Linked DNA regions of Homo sapiens. The protein of the gene in region 3 interacts with the protein of the main gene of each other region in a pairwise test. Each region holds a gene or a part of one and is shown on either strand. Other genes may lie near its edges. The genes, in order: IQCN, HTT, CALM3, CACNA1C, CFTR, JPH3 and DAPK1.

Region 1 (4,167 bases), about 28 Mb from region 3:
TATCTTTTTTTTTTTTTTTTGAACTGAGTTTCGCTCAGTCACCCAGGCTGGTGTGCAATGGTATGATCTCAGCTCACTGCAACCTTTGCCTACTGGGTTCAAGAGATTCTCCCGCCTCAGCCTCCTAAGTAGCTGGGATTACAGGCACCTGCCATCATACCTGGCTAATTTTTGTATTTTTAGTAGAGACAGAGTTTCACCATGTTGGCCAGGCTGGTCTTGAACTCCTGACCTCACGTGAGCCACCCACCTCGGCCTCCCAAAGCACTGGGATTACAGGCGTGAGCCACTGCGCCTGGTTTTTTTTTTTTTTTTTTGAGACAGAGTCTCACTCTGTCGCCCAGGCTGGAGTGCAGTTGCGTGATCTCGGCTCACTGCAATCTCCATCTCTCGGGTTCAAGTGATTCTCCTGCTTCAGCCTCTGAAGTAGCTGGGATTACAGGTGCATGCCACTGTGCCTGGCTAAGTTTTGTATTTTTAGTAGAGACGGGGTTTCACCATGTTGGCCAGGCTGTTCTCGAACTCCTGACCTTGTGATCCACCTGCCTTGGCCTCCCGAAGTGCTGGGATGACAGGTGTGAGCCACCATGCCTGGCCTCCCAGGTTACCTTTTATCTTATACTTACTCTTTAATCACAATCTTTTTTTTTTTTTTTTTGAGACAGGGTCTCAGCCAGGCACCGTGGCTTACACTTGTCATCCCAGCTACTTGGGAGACTGAGGCACAAGAATCACTTGAACCTGGGAAGCAGAGGTTGCAGTGAGCCGAGATTGTGACGCTGCACTCCAGCCTGGGCAAAAGGGTGGGACTCTGTTTTAAAAACAAAAAAGAGATAGGGTCTCATTCTGTCGCTCAGGCTCGAGTGCAGTGGTGCCATCGTAGCTTACTGCAGTCTCAACCTCCTGGCCTCAAATGATCCTCCTGTCTCAGCCTCCCGAGTAGCTGGGACTACAGGTGCATGTCACCATGACTGGCTAATTTTTATGTTTTTAGTAGAGACGGGTTTTACCATGTTGCCCAGGCTGGTCTGGAACTCCTGGCCTCAAGTGACCCACCCACCTTGGCCTTCCAAATTGCTGGGGTTACAGACGTGAGCCACTGTGCCCGGCCTATTTTTTTTTTTTTTTTGAGACAGTTTTGCTCTTGTTGCCCCAGATGGAGTACAATGGCACGATCTCAGCTCACTGAAATCTCTGCCTCCCAGGTTCAAGATATTCTCCTGCCTCAGCCTCCTGAGTAGCTGGAATTACAGGCGTCAACCACTATGCCTGGCTAATTTCTTGTATTTTTAGTAGAGACGGGGTTTTACCATGTTGGCCAGGCTGGTCTCGAACTCCTGACCTCAGGTGATCCACCCTCCTCGGCCTCCCAGAGTGCTGGAATTACAGGCGTGAGCCACGCCTGGCCAATTTTTTTTTTTTTTTTTTTTTTTTTTTAAGAGACAGTTCTTGCTTAGTTTCCCAGGCTGGTCTCAAACTTCTGTCCTCAAGTGATCCTCCCATCTTGGCCTCCCAAAGTGCTGGGATTGCAGGCAAGAACCACTGTGCTCAGCCTGGACGCCATTTCTGATGCCTGGATATCATGCCCTTGTATGATTAATTTAAGCCTGTCTCCATTGATAATTTTGGTTTCTTCCAGTTTTTCCTCTGCTAAACAATACAGTGTTAAACATCCTTGAACATACTTCTGTATTCATTTGTAGCAGAACCTCTACCAATCACTGTTTTGGTTATTTCCAGTTGTTTTGTTTGATTTCTAGCTACAAAATAACACTGGAATAAATTTCCTCATCTTTGCACATTTTTTTTTTTTTTTAGAATTTAGCTTTTTTAGAATTTAGAAATTTTAGAATTTAGCATTTTTGCTTTTAACATTTCTTTTTGTGTTGGTCTTGAGCCAGCCCAGGGCAGTGTTGCTGCATATTGCATGGATGAAAGGCTGAAGGCTGCCTCCTCTTGCAGGCTGGCTTCTGAGATTGCACCTTCTTCTCCTGCTACTCCTCCAAATCTATGACCCTTCAAGGTAAGAAGATGGTCTATGGGCAAGGGGTCTGGCTAGTCCAACCTGAAGAGAGGGGCTTCTGCCAAACAAGTGTGCTGTGCTCCAGGCTATGCATCAGGGTGGCTTGACAGTGTCCCAGCTCTCTCTGCATCCTAGTTACTTCTGAAAGCCACAGTCACCACTTTTTCTTCCTTCTTTCCATCCTTCCATATGCCATTTACCTACCCATCCCCTAATCCACCCACCCACCCATCCACCCATCAGTCTACCTCCTGTTGGGTTATCTCTTCACCAGTCTTTCCAGCTCTCTTTAATTTCCCTCCCTCCCTTGCTTCCTTCCTTCTTTCCTTTTATTTGACACGGAGTTTCACTTCTGTTGCCCAGGCTGGAGTGTGATGGCGTGATCTTGGCTCACTGCAACCTCCTCCTCCCGGGTTCAAGCAATGCTCCTGCCTCAGCCTCCCGACTAGCTGGGACTACAGGCTCATGCCACCATACCTGGCTCTTTTTTTTTTTTTTTTTTTTGAGACAGAGTCTTGCTCTGTCACCCAGGCTGGAGTGAGGTGGCGCGATCTCGGCTTACTGCAACCTCTGCCTACCGGGTTCAAACAATTCTCCTGCCTCAGCCTCCTGAGTAGCTGGGATTACAGGCACGAGCCACCATGCCGAGCTAATTTTTGTATTTTCAGTAGAGATGGGGTTTCACCACGTTAGCCAGGCTGGTCTCAAACTCCTGACCTTGTGATCCGCTCACCTCGGCCTCCCAAAGTGCTGGGATTACAGGCATGAGCCACTGTGCCTGGCCTACTTTTCTGTATTTTTAGTAGAGACGGGTTTCACCATGTTGGCCCGGCTGGCCTCGAACTCCTGACCCCAAGCAATCTGCCCACCTTGGCCTCCCAAAGTGCTGGAATGACAGACATGAGCCACCGTGCCGGGCCAATTTGCCTTTAACACTTTATTCATCAGCTTTATTTACCTATTCATCCAAACCTTCATCTGTCTTTCCAACCCATCTACCATTCACTCATCGACTGATTCATCCATTCAGTATCTAGTCCTGTATCTATCTGTCCATCCAACTTCCAATCCACTCACCATTTATCAGTCAAGATGCCCCCCCCACCCAATACCTACCCATTCACAGCTTGGAACCAAGCTCTATGACTGAGATGGGGACACAGAAATGACTCTGTCTTCTAGGATTCACAATCAATGGGGAGAGGCAAATAATCTCCCCCACCACACTTCTCTCTCTCTCTTTTTCAAACACACACACACACACACACACACACACACACACACACACACAGAGGCAAACAGGAAATTTCCAAAACATTGTGATCAGTGCTAAACCCAGGGTACATCCAAGATAAAGTTTGAAAAGCAGGCCGGGCGCGGTGGCTCACACCTGTAATCCCAGCACTTTGGGAGGCTGAGTCAGGTGGATCACCCGAGGTCGGGAGTTCGAGACCAGCCTGGCCAACATGGTGAAACCCCGTCTTTACTAAAAATACAGAAAAGTAGCCAGCCAGGCATGGTGGCGTGCACCTGTAATCCCAGCTACTCGGGAGGCTGAGGCAGGAGAATCGCTTGAACCCAGGAGGCGGAGGTTGTGGTGAGCCAAGATCACAGCATTGCACTCCAGCCTGGGCAACAAGAGCAAAACTCTGTCTCAAAAAAAAAAAAAAAAAGAAAAGAAAAAAGAAAAGCAGGTAAGTGGTCGGGCATTCAGGTGTCATACACTGTGTGCCAAGATGAAGTGGCCGTAGGGTGATGAGAGGTGGATATAAGGATGGCAAAGACCACTTGGGAGAGGGAGGGATGGAAAAAGGGAGGCGGAAGATCGCAACGTGCCAGGAACAAGATCTGGGCCTGGGGGGCCAGTGTCCACCCCAGCCAGGAGACCTCTTGTTTGCAGGACCTGCTACACCCTGACCACCCCCTGCCGCCCCCACAGGCAGAGCTGACCTGTCCGGTAATCAAGGCAATGCAGCCGGCCGCCTAGCTACAGTTCACGAGCCAGTTGTCACCCAGTGGGCGGTGCATCCTCCAGCCCCCGCTCACCCCAGTCTCCTGGACAAAATGGAGAAAGCGCCTCCACAGCCCCAGCACGAGGGCCTCAAGTCCAAGGAGCATCTTCCGCAACAGCCTGCCGAAGGCAA
Region 2 (4,167 bases), on a different chromosome or scaffold from region 3:
TCTAATGAAATTCTCTGTGTACTTTATAAAAGATGAGGATTAACTGAAGGTACTAATAACTGGATTATATGAGGGTGGTTTTGGTTGTATAATCCTATCTAAAAGAATATTTTAGCTATAACTGAAAGTAAGACTTAAATATTTAGAGAGGAAAATCTGAATAATTCTAGTAGTAATTATTTATTTACAAAATAAAAATAGATTTTTTTTTGATTACACAAATTAAACAACAATAAAACATCACAGCAATCCGGATACTATAAAGCTCACATGCTTACCGACCCAACTGCCCCAGGAGTGACCACTGCCAACAGCTTCATGTCGACCTTTTTGCCATAATTTTTATATAGCCTTTTTTGTTTTTAAATGGTAATTTAGAAAGTCAACTAGGAAAATGTGTTACAGGTTTATCTTCCAGGAGAATAGGACTGGAGTCGAGATCTTGAATGTGGCTTGGAAGAAGGCAAGCCCACCCCAGAGAGATGAGTTGACAGTTGTTTCTGACCACTGCTTGCTTAGAGGGCCTGCGTGTCTGTGACCGCCTAGCTTTGCGCCCCTGACTAGGCTGCCCCTTAATTACAAATGTCTTTATATATTGCTCCAGCTAAGGCTTGGAGTAGTCGGTTAAGAACTTGAACTTCGGTTTTTGCAGTGAAACAGCATTTGAGAATATCACCTTCTGATAAGCCTTATTTTATAAGGTGGGTACTGTAGTGGGAGGCAGTGTGAGAGATGCTTGAAGGATGCACTGCTGTCCTGCATTTCAGCATCTTCAGGATGCTGTGCAGCTGAAACATTTGATAACGGTGGAACTGTTCGTTATTTTGCAAGCCTGTGATTCCCTATTGAATGTTTTCTCTCGCCATTTGACAAATGAGTGTTTCTCTGTCTTCAGCCTCAGTGAAGGATGAGATCAGTGGAGAGCTGGCTGCTTCTTCAGGGGTTTCCACTCCAGGGTCAGCAGGTCATGACATCATCACAGAACAGCCACGGTCACAGCACACACTGCAGGCGGACTCAGTGGATCTGGCCAGCTGTGACTTGACAAGCTCTGCCACTGATGGGGATGAGGAGGATATCTTGAGCCACAGCTCCAGCCAGGTCAGCGCCGTCCCATCTGACCCTGCCATGGACCTGAATGATGGGACCCAGGCCTCGTCGCCCATCAGCGACAGCTCCCAGACCACCACCGAAGGGCCTGATTCAGCTGTTACCCCTTCAGACAGTTCTGAAATTGTAAGTGGGCAGAGGGGCCTGACATCTTTTTTTTTATTTTTTATTTGAGACAGAGTCTCACTCCATAGTGCAGTGGAGGCCGGGCACAGGGGCTCATGCCTGTAATCCCAGCACTTTGGGAGACTGAGGCAGGCGGATCACTTGAGGTCAGGAGTTCGAGACCAGCCTGGCCAACATGGTGAAACCCTGTCTCTACTAAAAATACAAAAATTAGTTGGGCGTGGTGGCACATGTCTGTAGTCCCAGCTGTTAGGGAGGCTGAGGCAGGAGAATTGCTTGAGCCTGGGAGGCAGAGGTTGCAATGAGCCGAGATCGTGACACTGCACTCCAGCCCGGGCAACAGAGCAAGACTCCATTTCAAAAAAAATAAAAAAATAAAGTGCAGTGGCTCGTTCTCAGCCCACTGCAACTTCTGCCTCCCAGGCTCGAGCGATTCTCCCGCCTCAGCCTCCTGAGTAGGTGGGATTACAGGTGGGCACCACCACACTCAGCTAATGTTTGTATTTTCAGTAGAGACAGGGTTTCACCATGTTGGCCAGGCTGGTCTCAAACTCCTGACCTTAGATGATCCACCCACCTTGGCCTCCTAAAGTATTGGGATTATAGTTGTGAGCCACCATGCCCGGCCCTGCCACCTGCCATCTTTTGAGTTCTTCCCTGGAGACCTAGACCTGAACCCTCCTGCTTGTTCTCTTGTTATCTAATACCCCTATTGACAGCGCAGCTTAGATCATTAATGGAGAGCTTGACCTCATCTGATACCTTCACTGAAGGAAACAACTTAGTGTCTTTTGTGTTGAACACTGAGGTAAAAAATTGGAATAGTTGATTATATGAACTCTGCTAAAATTGAGTGCATTTTACATTTTTTAAGGCCTTGTTGGGCCCTGGTTAAATAATTATTTTTAAAAATCCTTAAGGAGCCTATTATAAACAGATCTGTGGTCTTAATGAAATGTGATTAATACTGTGCATTATTTTAAGAACTTTTGACTTTTCAAAAAACTTTTACAACATTTCCCATTTGATAGCGGCATAGGTTTAAGCACTTCTCATCTCTAAGTTAGTGGACAAAAAACCCTCATGGATAGTCTAATAATGTTTGCTACAAGTCCATGTTGAGTTTTATACTCCATTTTATTTTCAGTTTTAAAAACTGTGGTTAAATATGTGTAACATAAAATTTATGTTCTTAACCATTTTTTGCGTATACAGTTCGCTGGTATTAAATACATTTAAATAATGTCATGGAATCATTGCTACCACCCATCTCTGTAACCTTTTGATCATGTAACACTGAAGCTCTGTTCCCATTGAACTCTATTCCTCCTTTCCCGCCAAGTCCCTGGCAACCACGATTCTTCTTTCTGTCTTCTGAATTTGACTACTTTGGGTTCTCATATACTTTAGGAGTCACACAGTATTTGTTTTACTTAGCATAATGTCCCCAAAGCTCATGCATGTTGTAGCCTATGTTAGAACTTCCTAATGTTTCAGGCCAAATACTATTCCATTGTATGGATAGGCCACATTTTGCTTTTCCATTCCTCTGTCCATGGACACTTGTATTGCTTCATGTTTTAGCCATTGTGAATCATGCTGTTATGAACGTGGGTGTACAGATAGCTCCTGGAGACTCTGCTTTCCATTTTTTTGGCTAAATACCCAGAAATGGAGTTGCTTTTACATTCCAATTTTAATTTAAAACATTCATATCATTGAGTGTTTTACTTAATAGTATAGTAGTTAACAAACTTAATAAAATAGTATTTTGGTAATAATTTGCTGGTAGTCCATTGTTCAGTTTTTTTAGGTAAATTACACAGGACATTTCAAGTGGACATGAAACATCTTGTGATGTGGAATCATGCCCCAAGCTGATGGCTAAACATATGAAATACCATACCCTAAATTTAGTAGATTTAGTCTTTGCAATTTAGGAGATAACCTGTTATATTGTTAGGTTTTTGTCGAAAAGCTTTGTCCTCATATTTCCAACTTGCTGTAAAATTTGTTTGTGAAGACAAATATTTTTGTATGGGTTTTTTCTTTTTCATATTAAAAAGAAATGTCCACATTGGAATTTTTTTGGAGTTTTTAGAGCTAATAGAGCTTTTCATAATGTAGTGGGAATGAGTGATCAGTAAGCTCTTAGCAGTTTCCATGCGTGCATTTCTGTGCCTTGAAATAAATGACAGATGAGTACATTTGTGTTCTGTGTGTAAAATGTGCTCTTTCCTCATTGCACTTCCATGTTGGAGGGCTTGTCTCTTGGTGATCACACTTCAAAATTCTCACAGCCCCCCTTGAACCGTTTAGGTGTTAGACGGTACCGACAACCAGTATTTGGGCCTGCAGATTGGACAGCCCCAGGATGAAGATGAGGAAGCCACAGGTATTCTTCCTGATGAAGCCTCGGAGGCCTTCAGGAACTCTTCCATGGGTATGTGGACTACAGGTGATGCGCTACAAAGTGGTTTGTATTCAGACCTGGACATCTTAATTATATCTTTGCTTCCAAGAAGAAGTCCTTTGATACTGTTTTCTGAGTTCTGAATAGCTGATGAAAATGACCAATTGAGGAATAATCATACTTTTTCTTGATCTAAATCTTATACTTTTGAGTTATCTTAGCATAAATGTATAATTGTATTTTAAGTGGAAATTTGTCACTTAATCTTGATTTCTCTGTTTTTAAAGCCCTTCAACAGGCACATTTATTGAAAAACATGAGTCACTGCAGGCAGCCTTCTGACAGCAGTGTTGATAAATTTGTGTTGAGAGATGAAGCTACTGAACCGGGTGATCAAGAAAACAAGGTGAGGGACATAGGCTTGAGACGACTTGGTGTTTCTGAGCTTGTGTGAGGATTTAAAATCGCCCTGGCTACTGTCTACTTTATTGCTTTCCCATCCCTGGGCCTTTAAATTT
Region 3 (4,143 bases):
CTGGGAAGGCCCTGACCTGGCTCGCTTTTTCCATTCTAGGCCAGGGGAAAGAATGAAAAGCAGATGGGATGGCAGCCACCTCCCCACACTGCTGCCCTCCTCTCTGTTCTTTCCCTGACCCTCCCTGGGCATTGCCTGGTCTCGGTAACCAGAAGCCCATCCTCCCTTCTCACTTTCCCTAAGCCTCTTCCTCAGGTGTCAGGACCTAAGGGATGGCTCCAGGCTTTTTTGTCCATGGTGGGAGGTGGGGGGCAGGTGGATCAAGAGGCTCATGGGCCTGGGGCTACCAGGTTGGCATTTAGAAGCCCAACCACCCTGTCTTTTTTGAAGGCAATGCAGAAGAATCTTCATTTGGCCTCCCCACCTCCCCTTTACACTTTGGACTTTTCCAGAATGTGCATGTGTGCCGTTTTCTCCCTTCCTCTTTCCCCCTCCCTAAGCCCTCTCCCCTCTGTGATCATCATTTTGATTACCCCTCCCATTCTGCCTATTTGGGGCTTGCAAGTTCTTCTTCCGTTAGGTTTTTTTTTTTTTTTTCTAACTTTTTTAGATCAGTGATTGTTAATATTTGGGACGGGGATGGGGGTAGGGGAGGCAGGCAGTGGTTTGTTCCTAGCTTCTGGAACCTCTCCGTAGAATACTGCAAATTCACATAATAGTCTGCTTCTATTTCTGAGGCTCTCAGACTCGAGACTAGAACATGCTATAGACTTGGAGCCCCTTTCCCTGATTGTGAAAGGAAGGGGAACAGACCCACCATGGTCCCGGGATGGTGGTGCCTTCTTCACAGCATCAACAAAAACCAGGGAAAATGTGTCTTTTGGCTGCTAAAGCTAAATGTTGGGATTCAGCCTCCCCAACCCCCCAGCCCCGCTCCTGCCCCATAGGATCACTATGCCTGGCTGATGCCCAGCACACCAGTGCAGGAGAAGCCAGTCCCCGCATCTCCTCCCCACCCCCAAACCCCGCATGCAGCAAGGGCTGCCTGCCACCCACTGGCCAGTCCCCAGAGTGCCCAAGCTGGAAAGGGTTAAAAACTGCAGTGCAAGCCAGCTTCAGTCCTCTGCTGCTGCCCGCTGCAGCCCTCTCCCTGACGTTTGTCCCTTCTGCCCAAAAGAAACAAAACAGAATGGCCCTGTGCCCTCACTGTGCGCAGGGGGTGGAGCGCCTGCCTCCAGCCTGACCAGAGTTCTTTAGGTGCTTGAGCAACTCGGGCCGCCGGTTAGGAGAATTTTTGCCACTTGGGTGGACTCTGCCTGAGCCAACCGCCTCCAAATAGGTGACACAGAAACTAGCAGAGATAGCCCCAGACATCGTCCCTCTGCCCTACCCAAGGACTGGCCTGCTTCAGTTTGGAGCCTTCTAGAGCTTCTTGATGAGGCCTCCAGGGCAATCGTTCCCTTCACTCGGCCTCTGGGGCTCTCACTGATGAGATGCAAACCTGTGCCAGGCCTCACCAGCGCTGCTGGTTTGGGGCTGGGGCAGGCTTTTCTCCCGCCCCTGTGGCTCCCACATGCTGAGTTGAGATTGGAAGCCCGTGGGTCTGGGCAGCTTCATCGGGCCGTGCGTCCAGCAGGCCTGAGTGTCCAGCCCACCCTGGTACCCAGCTTTCTGAATCACCAGACTTTATCATCAGGCGCTGGCTCTGCCTCAGACCCTGACTCTGGCATGCTCCTCCCTGGCCCGGCGGGAATGGCACGTGGAGCTGGCCTCACTGGGGCCGAGGGTCTGGGCTGAGTGAGGAAGATGCGTCCGTGCTGTCCGGCCTGGTGACTGACTTTCCCCTTCATGCTTTTACAGGCTGACCAGCTGACTGAGGAGCAGATTGCAGGTGAGTCTGCTATCCCCCTCATCTTAGCTCAGGAAAGCCTCCACATCCCCAGCCAAATCTTAGCCACTGAGGAGTGACATCTGATGGGTGAACCTGTGTATCCCTTGTGTCACCTAACACTATGCCTTGTGCCTAGAATGCTGATAAATGTGTGTAAGAGCACACCAGTGCCCCAATGACACGAAGCCCCATGGCCCTGAGACAGGCCTTTACCAGACACCAAAGGCTGTGTTCCTCTCCTGGGCCTGGGTCATCTAGGGGCTTGATATCAGTGGCTGCAGGACGAGCCCAACTCTCTCTCCCAGCTTCAGCCAGGTTGGCTTAGAAGGTGAGCTCCCTGCCTCCCTGTGGGGCCTGCAGAGCTCCTGTCCCACTTTAGGAGCCGCCCAGGAGCTGGCTCGTCACTCCCACCTCTGCGCTTGCCTGCGCTTTGCACTTCCTTTCGCATGTGCCTGCGCCTGCCTGTTCTGCTGGCGGAAGTGCCTCCCCAGTGCTTTGCATGGGCAGCTCCTTCCCGTCCCTTAGCTCAGATGTCCCCTCGGGGAGGCCTTCCCTGACCCCCATCTCAAGTACACAGCCTTCCTTTACTCTCCTTCACATCACTTTATTTTCTTCATAACCTTTCTCGCTGTCTGAAATTATTTTCTTATGTCTTCACCTGTTGTATCTCCTGTTACTAGATGTGAGTTCCATTGAGTTTGGGACTTGGTTTTGTTGGTCCCTGCTATAGCCTTAATGCCTGCCTAGAACGTAGTAGGTCCTCCGCAAACTTTTGCTGGCTAAACAAACATCTCTCTCTCAGCAAGCTAGAAGAAATCCCTGGATCCCATCTAATTCATTTTTCTAACCCCTCCAAAACCCCAGAAGGGTCAGCTACAGGAACTATTGTGTAATTACAGATCCGTGCCTGCCTACCCGCCCATACTGAGCTGCCCGAGGACAGAGAGCAACTCTTGGTTTATCTCCATAGCCAGGGGCCAGCACACAGTAGACCAGAGTAGCGATCCAGAGAATGGGCCTCTGCTCCCCACCAGCTACCCAGCCCCCAGCTCTGCTGTCAGGTTCAACCGGCTGTGTAACAAGTACTAAAGGCCCAGCTTCTGCGGTGGGAGGCAGGAACGGACTTGCCTTCTCTCCTTTCTCCCCTCAACCCGCATCACAGAGTCACCTTTGCAGCTTCAAAATTTTGGCCCTGGGTGGCTATGGAGACCCCTGAGGAAAGCCAGAAGATGGCCTGGTTTAGTGATCATGAGCTCGGGGTGCCCCATGACCCACTCACTACCTGCCCTCCCCAAGAACAACAAGGCCTCAGCACAGGGAGGTGCCAGCCTCCCCAAAGAGACTCTTGCCATGTCCCCAGGGCCCAGAGGCTCAGGGCCACAGCTTCCCAGCTGTGCATGTCCCTCCCAATGCACCTGCCACCCATCTCCCAACTCTGGCCTTGTGCAACATAAACGGTCTGCTTTTCACCCTGTCCCCATTAGCAAACTGTCCACCGCCTCACCCCAGCCCACACCCTCTGGGAATAGGCTGCCGGACATCTGTTTTTGGAGGGCTTGGGGGTAGAGGAGCACCAGGTGCCAAAATGGGCCCAGTGGGAGGGCAAGAGCCATGTGCTTTTCTCCCTGCCCCTGATGCGGCCCCAGCTGTGGCCTTCCCACTCAGCACTGCTAGCTCCTCATCCTCCTGGCTTGGCAGCCGTCCCCTCGCTTTCCATCCCCCCATCAACCCCACGCACTGTCCGTCAGCCATGTTCTGCTGCCGACCACCCCCACGCTCACCACACGCAGTGGCTCAGCTCCTTTGGAAGCTGGTAGCACCCACGGCAAGGAACAGGGCTGCCAGTCAGAAGGGAGTGGATGCCTGCATTTCCTCTTCAGGCCGGCCAGAGGCATTCTGCAGCCTCCCCTCCTCGTCCCAGCCAGCCAACCCTGGCTAACACACTCAGACAAAGAATCCTTTCGGCTCTCATTCACTCCATGACTTTGGTTCATTTCATCATTTCAAGGGAGAAGTCAAAGCCAGGGACCAAACAGAAATGTAGAATCATCTAAGGACAGCTGTCAGACCATTTTCCCCACTGTCTTCACTGGCTGGCCAGAAAAATAGCTTCACCTAGCACAGTGTTGATGTTCAATAACTGTTGAATGAAGGTTGGAAGGGCTTTGCCCTGAGCACTGAGGAGAGAGAGCTGGTTGCGTGGGACTTGAAGTCTGTCTCAGTTTCTTTAGGTGGGACTGATGCCCTTGGCCTTCCTCCAGGGAAGGCATCCAGCATCCAGAGGTAAGGATTCTCCTGTGGACCTTGTGACC
Region 4 (4,167 bases), on a different chromosome or scaffold from region 3:
GGTCGGCGGTTACTCCCTAGAGAACACTGGTCAGGGATGATTGGGAAATCGTTGTGGCCTGCCTCAAATCAGCCCCACACAGTGGGGCATTTCCAAAGCAAGGAGACAACATTCCAAAGGCAGGGTGTGCAGGGATGAGCCCTGGACACCAGAATACGTCTCAGACGAGGGGAGGGGAAAGGAGGAGCGTCTCGGGCCATAGTTACTGCTCCTGGCACCCCACCAGGGTGTAAACTGTCACAGGCCAGTGCCCTGTTTTCCTGCCCTGATGGTGGCTCTCTGGCTGGCTTTGCAGGTCGAAGGGCCTCCTTCCACCTGGAATGTCTGAAGCGACAGAAGGACCGAGGGGGAGACATCTCTCAGAAGACAGTCCTGCCCTTGCATCTGGTTCATCATCAGGTAGCTCACACTTTTGGACAGGCCACTGTCACCTGCCAGCAGGCCAGACAGTCCCCAGGGTGACGGACAAATCCTGAAGACTTCAGTGGGTCTTGCCTGTCTCAGATGGCTGGCACGTCCTGCCCCTGCCCTAAGAGCCATCCCTGTAGGGCTTCACACTCCTGTGCAGGTGAGGGCCACGGCAAGGTCTGCAGCATCGCAGGTGGGGGCCTAGGAAGTGCTGGTGCACAGGAGCTCTTTGTGTGATCCTGAGGACCCACAGCTGCAGGTTCCACCTGAGCTTTCTTCTTAGGCTGCCACAGATGCCACTGACGCCTCTGACACTGGCCTATGCCTCAGGGCACTCAGGAAGATGTACTTGTACCTAGAGTTTGAATATACCTGGAAATTTTGCCACACAAAAATCCATCCAGTGACATAAAGAAGTGATTAAAGAACCCACCAGCAACATGGTCAAGAGTAGGGAATGACATCCGTGGGAAGCAGGTCCAGGGAGATTCCATAAATGAAATGTCTCTTGGCATGGCTGACTCCAGCTGAGACAGTGAAATCCAAGATGCCAGGACCAAACATGCCTTAGTATCTTTGAACTTCAGTGTTATCTAAGGCCAGTCTATTAACCCCAGGCAAACTGAGGTCTAAACCTGGGTTTCCCAACATTCTGACCTTATTAAAGTTATACTCTTTTATAGCATGGACCTATGTTTTAAATAGACCTATGCTTTGTACCCAAAGGCATTCAACTGCCAATCAAAAGTCATAATCAGCATGAGATGGCCAGTGTGGCCTGGCTGAGTTGATAGTACTTCAGCTCCAAAAAATAAACAGGTTTTCTTAGCCTGTGTGGTGTTGTCTTCCACTGGGCTTTCTGAAATAATGAATATGGCCTTACACTTTTCTCAGATTCCCAGGGACCCAGGAGCCCCAGGCTGAGGACCACCATGGGCAGGGGCAGGAGGTGGAAGGATGTGGGGACACTGTGTGTGCTATCTTAAAAGATTTCTAGAAGTCGATTTCACCTATCTGTTCTTGTCGTACTGGTAGGCACGAAACTCTCCTCTTCATCTCTTTCTCCTCCTGTACTCTGTGACCCTAGAGGTGGTCTTTCCCCACCACAGTGTCGCTCTCTCCCGGGAGCACATCCCATCAGAGCAGCTCACCCTGCAGAGCCTCTGCCCTGGCAGGTTGTCATGGCAACAGCCAGACAGGCCTGGTCCCTACCCTCAGGATGCTCAAGAATATTCAGGGACAGAGGGCGTACCGTGTGACTTTTTTTTTTTTTTTTTTGAGACAGAGTTTTGCTCTTGTTGCCCAGGCTGGAGTGCAATGGCACGATCTCGGCTCACCACAACCTCCACCTCCCGGGTTCAAGTGATTCTCCTGCCTCAGCCTCCCAAGTAGCTGGGATTACAGGCATGCACCACCATGCCTGGCTAATTTTGCATTTGTAGTAGAGACTGGGTTACTCCGTGTTGGTCAGGCTGGTCTTGAACTCCCGACCTCAGGTGATCTGCCCGCCTTGGCCTCCCAAAGTCCTGGGATTACAGGCATGAGCCACTGCTCCCAGCCCTGAATCTTTTAATCACAATACAGCACCGGATTTAACAATGGCTCAAAGACAACCTGAGCTAGAGACTGGCAGGGCATTATGAATGGCCCCATTAACTGTGAGAACTAAAACCACAAATACTGGTTTTCCCAACTCTTTGTGAGGTGCACAGCGCTTCTTCACAGACCTCATTGCGCTTGAGCCTCACACCAGCCCCACAGGGCAGATGGATAGACAGCATTCGTTTTCTGGCTTTACAGACATGCAGGCCTCACCCTGCTCTCCATTCTATTGAGGACAAAACCAAGAGCGAGAGAATGCACAGCTGACAGGTGACCAGGCCAGGGCTAAAAGCAGGTTACCACGACTTCACCCAATCCCAGCTTTCAGAAGTTACAGGAGAAAGAGATCACTTCAGACCCAGATGATCCTAAGATGTATTTTGAGATAGTTGAAAGTCATGCCAGGTTGAGATAGGACCGACAGGGGAAAATAATGGCATGGGAATACCAGGCAGGTGGAGCTAGCTGGACACAGCAGCTGCAAAGCAGTGCTTGCTCAGAAGCAGGGGCCTGCCTTGTTTGGGGTCGGCCACTCCTATTAACTCACACTCCTTGTGTGTCCGCAGGCATTGGCAGTGGCAGGCCTGAGCCCCCTCCTCCAGAGAAGCCATTCCCCTGCCTCATTCCCTAGGCCTTTTGCCACCCCACCAGCCACACCTGGCAGCCGAGGCTGGCCCCCACAGCCCGTCCCCACCCTGCGGCTTGAGGGGGTCGAGTCCAGTGAGAAACTCAACAGCAGCTTCCCATCCATCCACTGCGGCTCCTGGGCTGAGACCACCCCCGGTGGCGGGGGCAGCAGCGCCGCCCGGAGAGTCCGGCCCGTCTCCCTCATGGTGCCCAGCCAGGCTGGGGCCCCAGGGAGGCAGTTCCACGGCAGTGCCAGCAGCCTGGTGGAAGCGGTAGGTGACTCGCAGATGGGCAGGGGGGAGAGGCCACGGGCAACAAGGGGACTTGGCATGCGGGGCTGAGAAGGGAGCACCTGGCTCTTGCCAAATTCATTGCAGTCAATATCTGAGCCCGAAAGACCCTCCCTCTCAGGGCTGCAGGAGGGCTCGTGTGCGGAAAGCCATGACTGCACAAGATGCTATGGGCTCTCTTGAGGCTGGGCCCACTGCAGAGGGCGGCAGAAACCACTGAGCAACTTATCCCTTATACTGCAGCTGCTCGACATGCAAATGTGAGCCTGGCTGCCTTTATACACAGACAGGCAAGATCCAAGGTGCTCAGGCCTGACTGCCCGTGAGCATCACCTGGGGAGCTTTGGAAACCCGGGACAGATTAACTGATGATTGTTAAAGCTCTTCGATGATTTTAACGTGTAGCAAGGTTGAGAGCCACTAGCCTAGAACAAGCGAGCTTTCAGTCCCACTGTGCTCTGCCTGGTCAGAGCATCTAGTGCAATCCCGGCACCACATTATTAGGGACCTTTGACACACTGGAACAAACCCAACAGAGGATGACCAGGATGGCAAGGTTCCTAGAAACCATTTCCTAGGAGAACCGTTTCAGGGAATTCGGGAAGAAAACCTGGAGAGGAGGTGACTTTGGAGGGTGCGATACACCTCTCACACCTGCAACGGGTGGGATGGGGAAAGGGTGGCAGGCTCAGCCCACCAGCGGACAGATTTCAGCTCACATGGGGAAGACCTTCCCAAATGAGCTCTTCCAAGATGAGAGGGGCTTGCCTGAAAGGTAGTGAGCCCCCCATCATCAGACATAGCCAAGCAGAGACTGTGCTCATCCGGGCGTCAGGCTGTGGTGCAGGAGGTGGGGCGTTAAACCAGGTGGCTTCCAAGGTTTACCTCTCAAAGTCTGGTATTCCTGTGGCCTCGATCATCCTGCATTCATTTCACAGACCTTCCCTGAGCGCCTACCATGTGCAGGCCCTGTTCTAGGTACAGGGACACAGCTGAGAAACAGAGCTTCTGCTCTCATGAGCTCACATCATGGTGAGGAGAGACAGATAATAAACACATACATATATAACACATCAGGAAGGTCAGGAGTGCCAAAGAAAAACTAAGCAGGGCAAGGAGAGAATGAGTGGCGTGGGCAAGGAGCAAGACAAACAGATGCCTGAAAGGAGCGAGTGCCAGGCTGCACTCAGCTTCCCCCGACCCGCTGGCTCAGGAGCCGATTTTCCCATAGCCAGGCACT
Region 5 (4,167 bases), on a different chromosome or scaffold from region 3:
TTCCTTTGTAGGTCATGATTCTGGGTAACCTGGAAGATGACCTCATTCATATTCTGTATTCTATGTGAGACGTTAAGAAGGTAGAGGTGGCCAAGAAGGAAATTGTTGCTGCCTTTATGGAACAAATTATCTGAAACCCAGCTTTCTCGAGGGCTTCATTGAAGTACTCAACTGGGGCACTTAACCCAGTCTAAGGCTGGTCAAGGAAGGCTTGCTGGGGGAAGTGTCTTTTGTATTCACACCTAAAGGAGGTTATTCAATTAGAATTATCCAAAGAGGGTAGGGATGGGCTAGGAAAAATTTAAACAGGTAGTGTGGAGGACTGACAGGATAAGTAAGCATGGCACCTTCAAAATATCCTGAGAAGTTCCCTATGACGGGAACATAAAATATGTGACAGAGATTTGTGGGAGATGGGTCTGGAAACTCTAGCAGGGGCCAGATCGTAAGGGGGCTTTGTAGGCTTTGTAGGCTTTGTTTGGGCTTTATCATACTGGAAGTGAAAAGCCATGGCTTTTAAACAGGAGAGGGACATAATCAGTTCATATACTGTTGCAGTTTTGTAAAAGAAAAGATGAGCTGAAAGAGTGGCCATGGTGGAGGTGGGTGGGGTGGGGGGGAGGGGGCGGGGAGAGAGAGAGAGAGAGAGAGATTTGAAAGACATTTAGGAGGTAAAATCAACTGGTTTGGTAATCAATTAGTAGTTGAAGGTGAAGGAAAGAGAAGAGTTAAGGATAACATCTATATTTGTTGATTTGGATAATAGAGGGGACAGTGGTGCTGCTTATTGAATGAGAAAATTTAATCGGAGAAGAAGGCATGGAGCAGGAGTGCAGACCTATGTGACTCTACTTCTCTCAAAACCAGAAACGGAAATGATGTATATGGCTCAGGGTTAGGTAATATGGTTATTTGAAAATGTATTAAAGTGATTTAGAGCTTAGTCTTAGGTAAGAGATATAAGATGTCTGAGGTGACAGTTTTATAAATATGTAGAGTGCCCACTTGTTTGGCCTTATTGTGGCATAGTGTGACCTGAGAGTGTTAGGAAGAAGCAGCTGAGTTCTAGGGACAGTACTGGTTAAATTCTACTTAGAAATTATACTTAGAACTCTCCTATATAACCTGCTAACTGATGTCTGAACCTCCTGATAACTTCACTCCTTTAGGCAGTGCTTTTCACATCACGGGACACAACATATGAGAGATCATAGAAATTCAATGTGGTATGAAAATCTGCTTGGGACTTCAGATATTGTCTCCAGTGATTGAATAAAAATAGGAGCTCACCTACTATGATGAGGTTTCTGTGTGTGTTAAAAGAAGGTTTTCATTACTTTTGAAAAGGTTATGTATCCTTGTTTTATGTTAAAACTTTGAGCTTTGTTAAATATGCAGAGTTCTCTTTCTTAGCATGGACTACAGAGGTGCAACTACCTCCTACCTGACTTCACATCTACTCCCAAATGCCTAGTGAAGGCTTAATAATTTCAAAAAGGGACTCTAGAATTTCATTTGATACCAGTCAGACAAATGTGTGAAAATTAAGCATAATAGGCAGAATCCCAGGGGTACTGACAGCTGTATTAAGAGGTGATTCAAGGGCTAAACCTTAGAGTCCAGCATTGGTTATGGGTGTGACAAGAAAATGAAGCCTATGTTGGCTGGGATTAGCAACCACAGTTCTAGAGGAAGCAAGGTGGAGAAACTATATAGGGGGCTCCCTTTGTACGTTTTATTTATTTTAAACATCTCTATAAACTCTAGAAATTAAAACAACAATACCAACACAAAAGCATCACTTTTTCGACCAAAGACCATTGCTATACTTTTTTGTGTAAAGGGCTAGATAGTAAATATTTTCAGCTTTGTGGGCCACATAAGTCTCTGCAATAGACAATATGCAAACAAATAAGCATGGCTGTGTTTCAATTAAACTTTATTATGAACATTAAAATTTGAATTTCATATAACTTTTACATGTTGCAAAATATTCTTTATTTAAATTCTATTGCAATATGCTTTAAAAGATACAGTTTTTAGTCTTTCTTAGTTTAAAATAAAATCTAGAAAAAATTTTAAGTCTTCTATAACTTTTTTTCGGTAACTGAATAATTTTAAAAGTAAGTGAAACATTTAGACATGCAAAATGGACTTTTCAGAAGAAGAAAATGGTAGCTTAACAGTTATTAGATTATTGTCCAGAATAATTTTTGACTTATAAGTCTCTGTTGACCATTTCATTGCCTCTTTTTTTGGAATATGCATCTTTTAATGTGTCCTTCAAGGCAAAGGCTCTATCTTATCTATCTTGTGTCTTGCATTTTCCCAGGGCAATGTTTTTCACAATTTTTTTAAAAAACAATACTGTAATCAATTTTCAAATAAAATTTTCCATGGGACCGCAGTGTATACAAATAGCAGTGACAATAAAAGATAATAACTCTCCCATAAATACAAAGAAACAGTTAACCTAGTGCTCTAAAGTAAAGGCTACAGTGATTTTGTATAACATTTATATGTAATTTTCTTGATCCTACATGGTTGTGTTTTTCACAGTGTTATGTTTCTGAAATCGAGATGCCTTTTATAATTGATGTCAAAAGAAACTTGTCAGCCACAAGGCCCAGGAATAAGTTGTAATATGGGAACTTAGCAATACATAAAGGTATATATACTCCTGTGACCTCAGCTGAATTATTTGCATTGGTTGCATCCCACAAGGTTGACTCTTAAATAAATTTAGTTTGTTGCTTGAAATTTCTTGGGATAAATTACTTTGTGATGTAGTTTTGAAAAAAAAACAGGTAATATTTAGTCTGAAGTTTGTCTGACATACTAAGCAATGTAATTAAAGTAGAAGTCGCCTAAGCTCAGCACTTTATTATGCCTTGAAATTATACTGCCTGTCCTACAGGTGAAGGTGTTATGAATGCAGTTTGTCACTGTAACTCTATTCATAGCTCTGAAAGGCTGAGAGTGACTCAGAAGAATATTTTTGCTCTGAATATGAAGAACGCTTAGACTAAAACTTTAATTACGATGCTGAAGAAGAAAGTGGTAGGTGATTGCATGAATAAGTATGTAATATTGTTAATTTCTAAAAACTGTGTATAGTTAATGTAGTGCTTCTTTTTGGAAAGGCTATTGTTAAATTGATGGTAAATTCTATAACCAATATCACCTTAAAGCAAGTACGCATGATAAAGTATTATAAAACCATGATAATATCATATGTGGCTTATTATTGTTCCCTGAGTGTTGTACAACTCTGTTATGCTGTGATGAAACCTCATGCAAACAGGTATGTCAAAGATATGATGGGCTGTTAACTGAGCTTGGCCCACATATGGTGTAGTGACATGCTCACTAATGCAGTGCAGAGATAACCAATAACAGATCATAACAGGTTTAAATATGTGCAAGGAGATGTCAGCAGAAGCTTTCCTACATAGTGAATACTAAACAAGCCTGACAGCCCAGGATCATGTTCGGATCAATCTAGTGTGCTAAAATTAACATATAGTCCTACATTTGAGAATGTGTGATTTTCTTGGTTCCTGTCTATAAAATAATATTTTAAAATACATACATTTCAAATCAGAAGTTGGTGAATTCACTGAAATATTTCTAGAGAACACTAGGTATTGGGGCTCATAGTGTGAAAACCACTGACTTAATTCTTCCCCCATCTTGGTTGTTCCTGATCTTCCCTTGTGTCCCCATTCCAGCCATTTGTATCCTTAGAAAATGATCTCATATTCTACTTCATCTTTATCTTCATTGTCAACTGTCAGGTAGCAATATATGATGGAAGAAGCATGTACTTTGGAATCAGACAGACCTGGCTGGAATCCTAACTCTGTCACTTATTAACAATGTGATCTTAGGCAATTTACTTAATCTCTCTGAACCTCAGCTACTCTCGTCAGTACAATGAGTTATCCTTATCTTTACATGGCACAGTATTATTATGATATCAAAAATTCATTGAGTATTTACTCTGCATATTAGTCAAGGTTCTCCAGAGAAGTAGAACCAATGATACACACACACACACACACACACACACACACACACACACACACAATTTATTATAAGGAATTGACTTACATGATTATGATGGCTAACAAGTCCAAAATCTGCAGTATGGGTCAGCTGGCAGGA
Region 6 (4,167 bases), on a different chromosome or scaffold from region 3:
CTCCCTTGCCTGCAGCCTTTCGGTGAGTGGGAAGCGCCTCTGCTGCCCTGAGGTTCCCTCTGGCGCCCTGGCCCGGGGACCGCGGCCTCGCTGTGGAATGTGCTGGGTAACGCCGTCTGGCGTCGTCTTGTGTCCCCATACAGGGCTGGAGTACCAGAGGCCGAAGCGTCAGACCTCCTGTGACGACATCGAGGTGCTGTCCACCGGGACACCCCTGCAGCAGGAGAGCCCCGAGCTGTACCGCAAGGGCACCACTCCCTCCGACCTGACCCCCGACGACAGCCCCCTGCAGAGCTTCCCCACCAGCCCCGCGGCCACCCCGCCGCCCGCGCCCGCCGCCAGGAACAAGGTCGCCCACTTCTCGAGGCAGGTGTCGGTGGACGAGGAGCGGGGCGGGGACATCCAGATGCTCCTGGAGGGCCGGGCCGGGGACTGCGCCCGCAGCAGCTGGGGCGAGGAGCAGGCCGGGGGCTCCAGGGGTGTCCGCAGCGGTGCCCTGCGCGGCGGCCTGCTCGTGGATGACTTCCGCACCCGAGGTTCGGGCCGCAAGCAGCCCGGGAACCCCAAGCCGCGGGAGCGGCGGACGGAGTCACCCCCCGTGTTCACGTGGACTTCCCACCACCGGGCCAGCAACCACAGCCCCGGAGGCTCCAGGCTGCTGGAGCTGCAGGAGGAGAAGCTGAGCAACTACCGGATGGAGATGAAACCCTTGCTGAGGATGGAGACGCATCCCCAGAAAAGACGCTACAGCAAGGGCGGCGCCTGCCGGGGCTTGGGGGACGACCACCGCCCCGAGGACCGGGGCTTCGGGGTGCAGAGACTGCGGTCCAAGGCCCAGAACAAGGAGAACTTCAGGCCGGCCTCCTCCGCGGAGCCCGCCGTGCAGAAACTGGCGAGCCTGCGGCTGGGCGGGGCCGAGCCCCGGTTGCTGCGTTGGGACTTGACCTTCTCCCCGCCCCAGAAATCCTTGCCTGTCGCTCTAGAGTCCGACGAGGAGAATGGGGATGAGCTCAAGTCCAGTACGGTGAGTGGGCGGCCACCAGGCTGGTCCCAGTGGAGGCAACATCCACCTCTCTGCTGACCTGGTGTTTCCTGAGGGTTTCCAGCAAGGTCACTGCTCCCCTGTTCCTCTCCAGGGGTGGAGTAGGGTGGGGGTACAGCCGGGAGTGGTGGCCCTCAGGTCGCTGGGACCCTCCCCTAGGAAGCCAGGTGGGGCAGGTGTCATACCTCTTTCCGTGAGAGGCTGCCCCCAGGTTGTCCAGAAAGCACACGAAACTCCTGGTTTCCAGGCAGCATGGGATCCCTGCGCTCCCCGCAACGTGCTCAACCCCAGCTGCTCCAAGAGTCTGTGCCCCTGGTCAGTAGCCTTGGGCCGTGAGATGACCGCTTGAGTGTCCTGTGTCCTGGATAGGAACCCAGAGGCGAAACAGCTGGGGGCAAGGCTGGCCCTGGGGCTGGGAGTCAGGTCTGGGGTTGGGGGGAGCTGCCAGTCCAGGTTTCTCTCACCCATGGGGGGTGTTGGGGTTGGAGCCGGCTCCCACGTGAGGCCCGCTGTGTGCAACTCACCGTCAGCCTCACCCAGCACCCCCCCCCCAAATTCGTTCCTCCAGGGCAGGCAGCTTGGAGGGAAGAACAGCGTCCCCCTGGGCTAGACTCGGCGCGAGGCTGGGGGTCCCAGGCTAGACTCGGTGTGCGAGGCTGGGGGTCCTGGTGCCTCACACAGGGCTGGCCTCCCCTTGAAGGGACCTTCACTCTGCAAATCCCACCCTGCTCCCTTGACCAGTGCTGCAGGAATGAAGGGCTTTGGGAATGAAGGGCTGTGGGACGGTGGCTACATAGGATCTGCGCACGGCCAGGCCCTCACCCCAGCAGGGCTCTGCTCGCTCGTGGCTGCCAGGCAGTGCGTGGTGCTGAACAGAAGTGCTGCAAGCCAGTCTGCCCCTCGGGTGTGAGGACGCAGGGGGGTGTCCGCAGGGGGCGCTCAGGGCGTGTGGGCCGGGCAGGGGGGACCATTGGTAGGTTTATTGTCGACGCTGCGGCAGGGGTCGGTGTCTGTCCCTGCCCCTGACCTAGGGGAGCTGTGGTTTTCTCCTCCTGCCAGCCCCACCCCCAGAGGGGTCACCGCGTGACACCCCTTTGAAGGGGCACGTCCTGCCGGGCGGCAATGCCTGTTTCTGCCTCTCCTTGGAACCACTGCGGACGTCTGTCTGTCCTGTTGGGTTCCTAAGATGCCTCCCCGTTCCCCAAAGCCCACAGAGAACAGCCCCTATGCTCCTGCTGGGACCAAAATACCAGCTCACACTTACAACTTGATTTTCCCCATCGCAGCCGGAGATGTGTGCGTGGCTGTGCGCGCGCGGTTATTTTAGGAACAGCCAAGCAGTGGGCAGGGTGGGAGGTGTAGGGACGGGTTCTATTTTTAGCCTGCTTAATGCACTGACACTTTTGGGTGCTTTTAAATGAACCTCCCTGGGGGTCAATGCACAAGCTGGGGACAAGTGCCAAGCTGGCCTCTGGGATGAGTTAGCGACACGCAGGGTGCTACATGCTGCCCTGGTCCTGCCCGGTCTCCAGCTGGGGCTAATCTGGAGGTCCCGTCAGCTGCAGCATCATGTCCCACCCACCCTGGAGGATGCCAGCTGAGCTCCTTGGAAGTGGCCACCCTGGGGTACCTGGTGCTGGTGCAAACAAGGTTTCCCTCCCTGTCTCCCTCCCCGTCTCCCTCCCCACAGCTTTGGAGCTGTGTTTTCTGCCAGGTCTGTGAGGGGAGATGGTGTGTAGAGGCGCGGTCAATCCTAAGCACTGTTCCAGGCCCTGTTGGTGGGAAGCAGGAGGGGCCCGTGCCAGCCGGCATCCATGTCAGGGGACAGGTGTCAGGGCAGTCGGGTGCCAGGCTGGGCTGAGTGCCTTCAGTGCCACCCCCTCACAGGGGTACAGCTCTCTGCAGTGTCTCCCCTGGGCCACCAGCAGGGTCTGGGGTGCTGTCTTCTGGCCATCCCCCTCCACCATTCCCAACATGCTGCAGAGCTCACACGCCAGAGGCCCTGGGTCCCACTGGCCACAGATGGGCCTGGGATTCTAGCCCACATAGGGTCCCACTGGCCACAGATGGGCCTGGGATTCTGGCCCGTGTAGGGCCCTGGCAATTCAGGGTAAAGTCCCTTAGGATGGAAGCACAGGTTCTCCCTACCGCTCTACTGGTGAAGGAACTCTGGCCCTGGCTGTTTCCCTCTTGGTGAAATGATGGATATGACCTGATGGTGGGGTCCAGGGTTGGAGGATGGCTGGGGAGACAGAAGCTTCCCTCCTGCGGGCAGCCACGCCCTCGCCCACAGCGTCCGTACCTGCTTCCCGGCCCAGAGCACGGGCTGGACTGTGGCAGAAGAGGTGCCACTGACCACCCCACTCTGTCCTGCTACCCCACTACAGGCTGACTAGCATCCGGCCCTTCCTCCTCGCTGGGGTGGGGGAACTTTGCACCAGGGGTGGCATCAGTGGGCAGGGCTGGGCCCTTGGCTGTTCTCTGCCCCCTGCAGGCTGGCCCGGCCCAACCAAGTTGTCATGGGGCCCAAGACTCACAATACACCTGCCTGAGGCCACGATGCCACGGAAAGCTGGGCTCAGGGCAGCTTGCTTTCTCTCTGGCTGAGTGGAGGCCCTTGCTGTGTCCACAACTCCACTTCCATCTGCGCCTCAGGTCCCTGATAGGCTGGGAGGTTGCGGAGGGTGTGGGCCTGGTGCTGCTGTGGCTGCAGGTGCCCCCTAGGCAGCACCTCACCCTCTGAGGACCCTCCTCTCTGAGCTGCATCCCAAGGACAGTTTACAAAGCCCTTTGCTGACTGGGGTTCAGCTTATCTGTTGAGCAAACTTTTTCTTTAAAAAGTTTCTTGGCCAGGCACGGTGGCTCACACCTATAATCCCAGCACTTTGAGAGGCCGAGGCAGGTGGATCACCTGAGGTTATCAGTTCGAGACCAGCCTGGCCACCAGGGTGAAATCCTGTCTCCACTTAAAAATACAAAAATTAGCCGGGCATGGTGGCACACGCCTGTAATTCCAGCTACTCAGGAGGCTGAGGCACAAGAATTTCCAGAACCCGCAGGAGGCAGAGGCTGCTGTGAACTGAGATCATGCCACTGCACTCCAGCCTGGGCAACAGAGCGAGACT
Region 7 (3,301 bases), on a different chromosome or scaffold from region 3:
GTCTCTCTTCACTCCCCCTGGGCACCAGGAACTTAATCTGCTACTCCTGGCAGCCTTCAGGATGGCTTCTTTGTATCAGCGTGGAGTCATCAGCTCCACACAGATCTCCTGGGTGGGAAAACAGTTGAGAAAAGGCAGTGAGGTGTCCTTGTGGAGGCAATGTCTGGAGATACAAAGACAGAGAACTCTGGTGCACAGATACACAGAGTAATCATAATTAAAGATGCACATTAAAAAACTCTAGCAAGCAATGCCCAGCAGAAATGATTGAGAATGGGAGGCTTTGCTCTGGTTCTGTGACATTGAGCACCAGGGCGCGGTTTGGAAACCCTGTTCTAATGGCATCATATGCCTGTCCCAGGAACGGGGGCAGTGCCTTCGTGTTTCTCCACCATGTGAAATTGGGAGCCTACATGAACTAGTGTGGGCCAAGAAGAGCGGTTCTGAATATTGCAACTAAAAGCAGCTCTGAGATTATTAAAAGCCAGATGCTTACCTCCCCAATCTCAGGTGCCAGGTCTGGCCCTATAGCCAGTTTGTATGAGTCATACAAATTTCTTGAAACTAAACCTGAATCCACAAGCCAGTGACCTTGAAAACTGGAGTCGCCGGGCAGTAATTTCATCAGCCTTTAAACTCCCAGTTAAATGGCCAGAGAATCTGCCAACTCATCCAGGAATACTTTAAAGTGATTGAATCCAAGGAAGAACACAGGTGAAGGACCACATCTTAGATGACAAGATACTGCTGGATGTAAAAAATGTGTCAATTCTAATTCTAAACTCCTTTGGCACAGGAGTCCCTTGCTTTCTAGTAGTAGACCAGCAACTTTCTAGATCATATCATATAGTCTCCTTTATTTGTCATTACATCCCTGCTTGCCCTTGAGAGTTTAGTAAGTAAATGAAGATGTAAAGAAGGAGGGTAATTAGGCAGCAGGAACTACATTGTGTGGCCCGACTTTGATTGGCCCCGGGCCTCCTCCAGACCTGCCTTCCGTATCTAATTTGCAGATCTTCAGAACTCCCCAGTGGCCCTTCTGACTCTGTTTTCTGGCCCAGGGTCCCACACTACGTTTAGCTGACTGTCTTAGCTCCCTGTTCTCCTCCACTATGGGACAGTTTCGTCTTTCCTGAGCCTGAGGCGATGAGCAGTGTTTAGGACCAAACTGCAAATGGTATTCCAGCAAATGCTGTATCAGGAACTAGATCAATATTGGCTCTGCCCTCCAGGAATTTTCAACCTAGGTTCAATTCTGAATAGACTCTTAGACAGGGGGCATCTTTCAGGTTTAAGCCAGACTGTGGGCAGGAAATTACTGTGTGGTCACCGGTGGGGTCAGAGCCTCCAAGTGAGGGAGTCCAGGGCGATGGCCACTCTCCAAGAAAGGAAGCAGAACTCTTCCATAAAGGGAAAGTTCCTTCTGTTTTTTGTCACTTTTTTTTCCTTTCTTTTTATTTTTTTAAGAAATAAACACAACCAAAAAGCTAAAGTCCCCTTGGGCCATCATCTCTGGTCTCACTCCTCTCTCCCCTTCTCGGAGGCCAACTATTATCATGGCAGCATATCCTTTCAGGCCTTTTCTATGTGTGTGTGTTAAACATTCACATAATGGTATAATAATAGAATGTTCTGACTCTTTTTTGAAAATGTTCTCAAGCCTTTAGAGAAGTTGCAAGGATAGTACCATGAACTCTCATATAGGCTACATTTATTTATTTTTTTAATTAATTAATTAATTTTTTTTTTTTTTTTTTTGAGATAGAGTCTCACTCTGTTGCCAAGGCTGGAGTGCAGTGGCACAATCTCGGCTCACTGCAGCCTCCGCCTCCTGGGTTCAAGTGATTCTGCCTCAGCCTACAGACACAAGCCATCACACCCAACTAAATTTTGTATTTTTAGAAGAGACAGGGTTTTACCATGTTGGCCAGGCTGGTCTCAAACTCCTGACCTCAAGTGATCCACCCGCCTCGGCCTCCCAAAGTGCTGGGATTACAGGCATGAGTCACGGTGCCCAGCCTACTACATTTAAGCTGATCAGTTGTTGACATTTTGCTACATTTGCTCGATTCCTTTCCTTTCTATTTATTTACTTATTTATTTTGCAGACATGATGACATTTCTTCCCTAAATAATTTAGCCTATATCTCCTAAGGAGAAGGATATTTTCCCACATAACCCAATATAATTGATGATTCCAGAAACATAACATTAATATAGTACTATGATTGAATATATCATCCTCATACAAGGGTTTGCCACTGGTCCCAATAATTTCTTTTAAAGCTATTTTTATTTATGTACTTATTTTGGGATTCAGAATCCAGTCTAAAATCACTCATTGCATTTGGTTGCCATCTCCCATTTTTTTTTCTTCTTTCATTTCGCTGGCCTTTTTGAAGACTTCAGGGGAGTTGTTTTTCAGAATCTCTATTCTGACATTTTCAAGCTGCTTTTCTCCACTCGGTGTTTGGTTTTTGAGACGCATCCACGTGGAATGGCCTTGGGTCACTCCTTAGAGCATCTGCTCAGCCTCTGTTGCCGGCATCAGGCCCTTTAGTGCTCTAAGTGGCTGGTGCACCTGGCCAGGGCTCTGTCCCTAAGCGTGACTTTCTGTTGTCCCCCCGCAGATCAACATCATGCAAAGTGAAACAGTTCAGGACGTGCTGCTCCTGGACCCCCGCTGGCTCTGCACAAACGTCCTGGGGAAGTTGCTGTCCGTGGAGACCCCACGGGCGCTGCACCACTACCGGGGCCGCTACACCGTGGAGGACATCCAGCGCCTGGTGCCCGACAGCGACGTGGAGGAGCTGCTGCAGATCCTCGATGCCATGGACATCTGCGCCCGGGACCTGAGCAGCGGGACCATGGTGGACGTCCCAGCCCTGATCAAGACAGACAACCTGCACCGCTCCTGGGCTGATGAGGAGGACGAGGTGATGGTGTATGGTGGCGTGCGCATCGTGCCCGTGGAACACCTCACCCCCTTCCCATGTGGCATCTTTCACAAGGTCCAGGTGAACCTGTGCCGGTGGATCCACCAGCAAAGCACAGAGGGCGACGCGGACATCCGCCTGTGGGTGAATGGCTGCAAGCTGGCCAACCGTGGGGCCGAGCTGCTGGTGCTGCTGGTCAACCACGGCCAGGGCATTGAGGTCCAGGTCCGCGGCCTGGAGACGGAGAAGATCAAGTGCTGCCTGCTGCTGGACTCGGTGTGCAGCACCATTGAGAACGTCATGGCCACCACGCTGCCAGGGCTCCTGACCGTGAAGCATTACCTGAGCCCCCAGCAGCTGCGGGA

Evidence for each region.
Region 1: the proteins of CALM3 (region 3) and IQCN interact in binary tests that used the Homo sapiens proteins (3 or more experiments, as listed by UniProt).
Region 2: the proteins of CALM3 (region 3) and HTT interact in binary tests that used the Homo sapiens proteins (3 or more experiments, as listed by UniProt).
Region 4: the proteins of CALM3 (region 3) and CACNA1C interact in binary tests that used the Homo sapiens proteins (3 or more experiments, as listed by UniProt).
Region 5: the proteins of CALM3 (region 3) and CFTR interact in binary tests that used the Homo sapiens proteins (3 or more experiments, as listed by UniProt).
Region 6: the proteins of CALM3 (region 3) and JPH3 interact in binary tests that used the Homo sapiens proteins (3 or more experiments, as listed by UniProt).
Region 7: the proteins of CALM3 (region 3) and DAPK1 interact in binary tests that used the Homo sapiens proteins (3 or more experiments, as listed by UniProt).

What each region holds. Positions count from the first base shown.
Region 1 is NC_000019.10:18,267,322-18,271,488, reverse strand, and holds part of IQCN (IQ domain-containing protein N), read left to right. Parts: intron 1-1,897; exon of another isoform or gene 1,898-1,901; 5' UTR 1,902-2,010; coding exon 2,011-2,023; intron 2,024-3,923; exon of another isoform or gene 3,924-3,962; coding exon 3,963-4,167. UniProt on the Homo sapiens protein: Essential for spermiogenesis and fertilization. May be required for manchette assembly in elongating spermatids.
Region 2 is NC_000004.12:3,126,369-3,130,535, forward strand, and holds part of HTT (huntingtin), read left to right. Parts: intron 1-895; coding exon 896-1,236; intron 1,237-3,555; coding exon 3,556-3,679; intron 3,680-3,936; coding exon 3,937-4,055; intron 4,056-4,167.
Region 3 is NC_000019.10:46,604,027-46,608,169, forward strand, and holds part of CALM3 (calmodulin-3), read left to right. Parts: intron 1-1,800; coding exon 1,801-1,831; intron 1,832-3,797; exon of another isoform or gene 3,798-4,143. UniProt on the Homo sapiens protein: Calmodulin acts as part of a calcium signal transduction pathway by mediating the control of a large number of enzymes, ion channels, aquaporins and other proteins through calcium-binding. Calcium-binding is required for the activation of calmodulin.
Region 4 is NC_000012.12:2,685,871-2,690,037, forward strand, and holds part of CACNA1C (voltage-dependent L-type calcium channel subunit alpha-1C), read left to right. Parts: intron 1-295; coding exon 296-399; intron 400-2,576; coding exon 2,577-2,909; intron 2,910-4,167. UniProt on the Homo sapiens protein: Pore-forming, alpha-1C subunit of the voltage-gated calcium channel that gives rise to L-type calcium currents. Mediates influx of calcium ions into the cytoplasm, and thereby triggers calcium release from the sarcoplasm.
Region 5 is NC_000007.14:117,486,267-117,490,433, forward strand, and holds part of CFTR (cystic fibrosis transmembrane conductance regulator), read left to right. Parts: intron 1-4,167. UniProt on the Homo sapiens protein: Epithelial ion channel that plays an important role in the regulation of epithelial ion and water transport and fluid homeostasis. Mediates the transport of chloride ions across the cell membrane.
Region 6 is NC_000016.10:87,689,503-87,693,669, forward strand, and holds part of JPH3 (junctophilin-3), read left to right. Parts: intron 1-143; coding exon 144-1,024; intron 1,025-4,167. UniProt on the Homo sapiens protein: Junctophilins contribute to the formation of junctional membrane complexes (JMCs) which link the plasma membrane with the endoplasmic or sarcoplasmic reticulum in excitable cells.
Region 7 is NC_000009.12:87,703,502-87,706,802, forward strand, and holds part of DAPK1 (death-associated protein kinase 1), read left to right. Parts: intron 1-2,630; coding exon 2,631-3,301. UniProt on the Homo sapiens protein: Calcium/calmodulin-dependent serine/threonine kinase involved in multiple cellular signaling pathways that trigger cell survival, apoptosis, and autophagy.